Homo sapiens: one gene and its partner. The protein of the gene in region 2 interacts with the protein of the main gene of each other region in a pairwise test. Each region holds a gene or a part of one and is shown on either strand. Other genes may lie near its edges. The genes, in order: XRCC1 and CHD1L.

Region 1 (3,808 bases), on a different chromosome or scaffold from region 2:
AGAGTGCTGGGATTACAGGCGTGAGCCACTGCACCGGGACTCACTTTGAATGAATGAATATGGACCCTAACACTTGTTCTCCCACCCCTGAGTTTTTGCACAAACTGCTCCTCCAGCCTTTTCTGATAAGCAGGCTTCACAGAGCCCTCTGTGACCTCCCAGGCAGGTCCTCCTTCCCTCATCTGGAGTACCCCAGCCCCTGCCCCGCTCCTCTCAGTAGTCTGCTGGCTCTGGGCTGGGACCACCTGTGTTCTCCGCTGGCAGGCCCCAGTCTGACTCCCCTCCAGATTCCTGGCATTGCCCAGCACAGGATAAGGAGCAGGGTTGGCGTGTGAGGCCTTACCTCTGGGAGGGCAGCCGCCGACGCATGCGGTGACAGTCCAGCACCCACTCCTTACGCACGATGCGGCCTCCCAGGCCTAGGACCTGGCTGTACTTGGGGGTGTTGGCAAAGGCACAGCTGGTGGGGGGCAGAAGTGAAGATGCCAGTTAGGTGTGATCTGAGGGGCAAAGGGGAACGAGACAGGGGAGACAGACAGAGAGAGAGAGAGACAGACAGACAGACAGATCATGAGATTGAGGTGGGAGAAACAAAAAGAGGTTGGAGACCAAGGGAGAGATGCAAAAATCAGAGAGAAGACAAAGGCTACAGAATGCAGTGAGAAAGAAAGCAAGTGAGAGAGAGAGAAAGCATGCAGCATAGTGGACACAGAGAAAGCACAAGGTGGAGGAGACACAGGGAGCTGGGGGAGAAACTGCAGCGGCGCAGGGAGGGGGGCGCAAGCCTACATGAGGTGCGTGCTGTCCCGGGTCCAGTCTGGCCGATACTTGGCCCCAAGCTCTAGGGCCTTATCTCGCAGCTCGGAGCGGAAGGGGTTCTGGAAGCCACTCAGCACCACTACCACACCCTGAAGGATCTTCCCCAGCTCCTCTGGGCCAGCTCGGGGTCGTCTGGGCTCGGTGCCTTCTCCTCGGGGTTTGCCTGTCACTGCCCCCTGTGCTCGGGCAGGGACTGGGGCTGTGGCTGGGGTACGAGTTGGAGCTGGCACTGGAGAAGACAAAGAGTAGATTAGGTTAGCACCACTGGGGGTCAACCCCCAGCCCCTCCTCCCTCAGACCCAGCAGTCCAGGCCCCAGACCCTCCTCCCTCAGACCCAGCAATCCAGGCCCCAGCCCCTCCCCCCTCAGACCCAGGGGTCCAGGCCCCCAGCCCCTCCTCCCTCAGACCCAGGAGTCCAGGCCCCCAGCCCCTCCTCCCTCAGGCCCAGGAGTCCAGGCCCCCAGCCCCTCCTCCCTCAGACCCAGGGATCCAGGCCCCCAACCCCTCCTCTCTCAGACCCAGGGGTCCAGGCTCCCAGCCCCTCCTCCCTCAGACCCAGGGGTTTAGGCCCTCAGCCCCTCCTCCCTCGGATTCAGGAATCCAGGCCCCCAGCCCCTCCTCCCTCAGACCCAGGGGTCCAGGCCCCCAGCCCTTCCTCCCTCAGATTCAGGACAGCAGGCTCCAGCCCCGCTTCCCCTAGGACACAGGAGCACAGGCCCCTGTGGAAACAAGGGATCTAGTTAGCTCACATTTAGGTCTCTTGGGAACAGATGGCGACAGCTGGGCTGGTGGTTTGCTGGGGGTCTTCTTTTCTTCTTGGTTCAAATCCAACTTCCTCTTCCCTTTGGGAGACTCCTGGGGCTGAGGGGATGGGGATGGATTGAGGCCTCCAGCTTCTCTCCTCCTCCACCCCACCAAAGTCTGATGATTTCACCTTGGAGGTGCTGCCTATGGCCCTGGAGACTGGAGAGGCTGAGGAGGCAGCACTAGAAGCCTGGAGGGTAGCAGCTGCATAGCTAGGTCCTGCTGGGTCGCTGGCTGTGACTATGAAGGGAGAAAGTGGATCCAGGATGAGAGGGCTGAGCCCCAAGACCCTTTCACTCCTATCTATGGGACACAGAATATTGTTGCCAAAACCCACCAGTGATCCAGGAGTCCCAGCCTCCAGACCTCTCAACCCTCAGGACACAAGAGGCCAGGCCCACCTTCCTCCACCCTGAGACCCAGGAGTCCAGGACTCCACTACCCTCCTCCCTCAGACCCAGGAATCTGAGCCCCAGCCCCCTCTACCCTCAGACCCACGAGTCTAGGTCTCAACCCTACTCACTCAGGACCCACGTTGTCCGAGCTCACCTGGGGATGTCTTGTTGATCCGGCTGAAGAAGAGAGCCCCCGGCCTCAGAGAGTTGGCGCTCTCATCCTCCTCCTTCACACGGAACTGGCCAAGCTTGGTCACTGTCACCTTCTAAGGTCCCGCAAGGTCAGTATTATAGGTGGGCTGCTGGCAGGTGGGGGTGGAGAGGCAGGGAGAAGGCCATGGGGAGTGACAGGTACAGCTTACCTGGGACGGGGCCTCTGCCTCATCTTTGTCTGGGGGGCTATGAAACCGTACAAAACTCAAGCCAAAGGGGGAGTCCTGGGAAAGGAGGGGTGGGAGTCAGGGAGTCTGGCCCAAGGACAGAGGCCAGGGCCCAAGACCCTTTTCACTCAGGGAAACCTCTTCCTGGCTCCTTCCCTCTCATGAACACCCATGTTGAAGGAGGGGCCCTGGCGATGGTGATGACAATTATAGGATTAAGCTGTTATGACTGAGCCCTAACTCTGAGTCTGGCTCCAAGCCCTTTTCACGCATTAGCTCTTTGGGCAATTGGCAGAGTCTACTAGGTGTCCCAGCGAATTCACTGCCCTATGCACAAACTCCTGCCTGTGGAATGGGAGGGAGTGCTGCGTGCCACTTCCAGAACACAGAAGTGTTCCAGGCTCTCTCCTCTGCCAGCTGGATGCAGAGCCAGAAAATAGGAGAAGTCTGGGTCCCTGCACGACCTCATAAGGAGAAGCCAGCTGACAGGCTAAACACTCCCCAGGACAGTTACCTGGGCAAGAAGCACACCTTTAGTGTGTGGCATCATCACATACTCCAGTCTCACTGTTACCACAGCTTTTAGCATCCCTTAACCTACAGCAACCCTGTAAGGATCAGGCAATGGAGGCCCAGAGAGCGTAAGTCACTTGCCCAAGATCACACAGCTAAAAAGTGGTATAGCCAGGACGTGAACTCAGTAATCAGACGCCAGATCTCCTGATGTTAACTACTAGGCCCACTCTACTAGGCCACCTCTCTAACAAGTCAGTTCCCCTCCTCCGATTCCCCTCTGAGATGCTGCAGTTCACCCTTCCTAGATTCCTCCGGGAGATGAAACTTCTCATTACAGGAAAGATCCCAAACCCATTTCAGGGAACGCAGGGACCCAGCCTCCCCATAATCCCATGGGACACCAGCTGTCTACTCCTCCCAGCCCTATGGGACTCAATATTGGCCCTTATTTCCCTCCTTGCCCAGGACCAAGGACTCTGCACCCTGGCTCCCACCCTAGGTACCTTGCTGTAGGGCTGGCTGCAAACAATTTTGACCCGGTCCCAGCGCTTCTCGGCGGCTGCCCGGACCAGCTTGTCAGGCCCAAACATGCGAACGCGGTTGGGGTTTGAGCCACTGCGGCTCTCGGAAGGGGACATGAAAGATGAGGTGACCAGAAGGACCTGGGTGGGAGAAGCCACAGTGCATGAGAACCAGGGCAGGTTGGCTTAGATGAGAGCTTCTAGGGGCTGGGGAAGAGGGCACAGGGCCCACACAGGGGACTGGGAGTCACTAGAATGTAGCTTGGGCCTAGATGTCTCCAGACCCTTTGTTTCTAGGCCTTGAGTCAGTCCTGCCCTGACACAGGCCCCAGAGGGATCTCTTTATCCTCCAGATGTGAGCGACCCTTATCT
Region 2 (3,808 bases):
GAATGAGTTATAAGGAAGTATCGCAGTGGCGGTGAGCAGTACTCGTCGCATAGTAACACACCTGGCAGGTCTTCCCCAGGCCCATCTCATCTCCCAGGATACAGCCATTCTGACAATGGAAGCGCTGGGCGAGCCAGTTTACTCCCTCCAGCTGGTAAGAGCGTAGGTGAATCCCTAGAAACAAAAAATACAGCAAATCCGAAGAGCAGACATTTCAGTACATGCAGAGGCAATGTTCTAAGAGTTTGAATGAGGAACACAGCCTAAATTCACATAACCCTAAACCTCACTGGACGTATCTTTTGCTGAGGAGTTATGGATATCTAAACATCTGCTGACTTCCAAACTACTTTTTGAGCAGACTTATTCACCTTTATATTCAAAGCCCCAAAGTAGCCTGTCATTGTTACCTGATTCACTTGATAAATGAGAAAGTCAACTTGGGATCTGGCCTCTATACTGCCTGAGACTCACACCAGTGTCCATTCTGGGAAATGAGGCATTACTGATGCAACTTAACAAAGAGCAACAACACATGGATTGTACATGTGTCTGCTTGTTTAATTGCACCCATTTAAATATGCCATCAATGCTAAAGGAAAAAACTTAGGACTACACTGAATAATGCTTCAACACAGAAGCGCTGTTTTTAAGAATGGAAATGATGTTTCACAAAGGGTATTTAACTGTGTACAGGGATGGCAGAAAACGTGTGAAATTAATACGGAACTTACTCTCTTTTCTCTTTCCCTTGGTGAAAAAAATCCAATTTCAAAGAATAGCCATATCTTGGGAAGGTGAAAGACCTTAAACATACTTTATATAAGAACTATTAGCAAAAACATAACTATCTGGTTTAACTTATACCTTTAAAAAAATCTTCAAAATACATAATTGTACAAAATTTAAAAAATAAGTTATTTTTCTTAGGCACTTACAAATACCAGAGTAGTAGTAAACACTTTACATAAATTACAGTATCTCACGCCTGTAATCCCAGCACTTTGGGAGGCTGAGGCAGGCAGATCACCTGAGGTCAGAAGATCAAGACCAGCCTGGCCAACATGGTGAAAACCTGTCTCTAATAAATAATACAAAAATTAGCTGGGTGTAGTGGCGGGCACCTGTAATCCTAGCTACTTGGGAGGCTGAGGCAGGGGGAATTGCTTGAACCCGGGAGGCGGAGGTTGTAGTAAGCCGAGATCGCGCCACTGCACTACAGCCTTGGCAACAGAGCGAGACTGTCTCAAAAAAATAATAATAAAAATAAATAAATAAATTACAGTATCTCATTTAATGCTTATAATGATTCTATGGAGTAGGTATTATCCCCATTTTATAATCAGAAAATTCAGAGATTTCTGTTTCTGATGGGAGTATACTTACTTTCCCTTATTCCTCTTGCTAAGTACAAATAAAAACCCTAGACATGCTACAGAAAACAAGCATAAAACTCTGAAAGGTGTAGTGAAGAAGCAGACTGGCTAGGGACCTTGGGCCTGCGGAAGGCAGGGTAGTAAGTTCCCTGGAATTTATTTTTGCTTTATATATCCCAGTCTGACAGTTCAAGAAATCAGCCAACTGGAAACACCAACTGATGTAGACCAAAACCAAAACAAATAAGAACACCTCCCAATATTAGTCTCTTCTCATGCTGCTAATAATACCTGAGATTGGGTAATTTATAAAGGAAAGAGGTTTAATTGACTCACAATTCCACATGGATGGAGAGGCCTCACAATCATGGTGGAAGGCAAATGAGGGGCAAAGTCACATCTTACATGGCAGCAGGCAAGAGAGCTTGTGCAGGGAACTCCCATTTATAAAACCATCAGATCTTGTGAGATTTATTCACTACCATGAGAATAATATGGGGGAACTGACCCCATGATTCAATTATCTCCACCTGGCACCACCCTTGACACGTGGAGATTATTACAATTCAGGGTGAGATGTGGTTGGGGACACAGCCAAACCATACCACCCCCACCCCTCACAAGCCTGCTCCAGCTAGAAAATGGCAGCCTAGCAAGACAGGAAACTTTTATATAATAACTGCTCTATTCTAGTAAACACCACAGGAATAAACCTGTGGTCCCACCAGCAAAGGCTAAGTGGAAAGCATAGACTTCTACCTACAGCTACAACGAGTGCCCCAGCACCCCAGCCAGGATGGTATAAGAGAAGGCCAAGTAGGGAGCTGGGATTTTTATCCCCACCAACCAATAACGAGGCCCTACCCCTTAGCTTTCCCCTGCAGGATCAGTAGAGACTCAGGAGGGAGCCACAACTCCCACCCTCACCCAGCAGGATGGAGGAGCCCCTTCCCAATCCCCAGATGTGGACAGAGGCTGAAGGGGGAGCCTGGACTTCTATCCCCACCTGGCACTAACAAGGCAGCAGACCCTCTTCCCCTGCCAGAGCAGCATCAGACAAAGACAGTCAAACAGGAGGTTTAAACATGATTTAAAAAAAATGCCTGGCTCCAATTCTTATAAAAATCATTCATTATATCAAGAACTGGGAAGATTTCAAACTGAACGAAAAAAGATAATCAATAGGTGCCAACACCCAGATGACACAGACGGTAGAATTATCTGACAAAGACCTTAAAGCAGTAATGATAAAATGCTTCAACAAGTAGTTATGAATGCACTTGAACAACTGAAAAAAACAGGAAACCTCAGGTAAGAAACAGAAATTTCAGCAAAGAAATAAAAGATATAAAGACCAAAGGGAAATTTTAAAAACTGAAAAATAATATAACCAAAATAAAAGGCTACTGATGCTGTTGATGGGATCAACAGCAGAATGGAAGGAAGTGAGGAAAGAATCAGTGAACTCTACAGAATAGAAGTTATAGAGAGATTACAATCAGAAGAGAGAGAAAGCAGACTGAAAACAAATGACCCTCCGGGACCTTCAGGACTACCACAAAAGATCTAACATTTGTTCAATGTTGTCCAATAAAAACAGGTGAAGGAGGATAGGGCTGAAAAAGTACTTAAATAAATAATAGCTGAAAACTTCCCAAATCTGGCTAAAGAGCTACAGTTTCAAGAAACTGAGTAAACCGCAAACATAACAAAACATTGCCGGGCGCGGTGGCTCACGCCTGTAATCCCAGCACTTTGGGAGGCCGAGGCAGGCGGATCACGAGGTCAAGAGATTGAGACCATCCTGGCCAACATGGTGAAACCCCATCTCTACTAAAAATACAAAAATTAGCTGGGCGTGGTGGCGGGTGCCTGTAGTCCCAGCTACTCGGGAGGCTGAGGCACGAAAATTGCTTGAACCCAGGAGGCGGAGGTTGCAGTGAGCTGAGATAGCGCCACTGCGCTCCAGCCTGGCAACAGAGAGAGACTCTATCTCAAAAAAAAAAAAAAAAAAAATACACACCAAGATATGTAATTATTAAAATGCTGAAAACAAAAGACAAAGAAAATATCTTAAATGCAGCCAGAAAAAAAACAAACAACACCTTACTTAAAGAGGAAAAACTATTCAAATGCAAGCAGATTTCTTGTCAGAAATCTTAAAGGCCAGAAAGAAATGCCACAACATGTTTCAAATATCGAAAGAAAAGAACTGTCAATCCAGACTCCTGTAATCAAGAAAAATGGTATTCAGGAATGAAGAGGAAATTCTCAGATGAAGGAAAACAAAGAGAATTTATCATCAACAAACCTACCCTCAAAGAATGGCTAAAGGAAGCCCTTGGAAAAAAAGGAAATGATAAAAGATGGAACCTTGGAACATCAAGGTGAGAATGCAGCATTCAAAAACGTGTAAATACAATAGGTTTTCC

Evidence for each region.
Region 1: the proteins of CHD1L (region 2) and XRCC1 come close enough for resonance energy transfer, tested with the Homo sapiens proteins (one study listed by BioGRID).

What each region holds. Positions count from the first base shown.
Region 1 is NC_000019.10:43,551,228-43,555,035, forward strand, and holds part of XRCC1 (DNA repair protein XRCC1), read right to left. Parts: intron 3,578-3,808; coding exon 3,419-3,577; intron 2,457-3,418; coding exon 2,382-2,456; intron 2,286-2,381; coding exon 2,174-2,285; intron 1,865-2,173; coding exon 1,755-1,864; intron 1,682-1,754; coding exon 1,570-1,681; intron 1,049-1,569; coding exon 790-1,048; intron 461-789; coding exon 344-460; intron 1-343. UniProt on the Homo sapiens protein: Scaffold protein involved in DNA single-strand break repair by mediating the assembly of DNA break repair protein complexes. Negatively regulates ADP-ribosyltransferase activity of PARP1 during base-excision repair in order to prevent excessive PARP1 activity.
Region 2 is NC_000001.11:147,248,989-147,252,796, reverse strand, and holds part of CHD1L (chromodomain-helicase-DNA-binding protein 1-like), read right to left. Parts: intron 175-3,808; coding exon 62-174; intron 1-61. UniProt on the Homo sapiens protein: ATP-dependent chromatin remodeler that mediates chromatin-remodeling following DNA damage.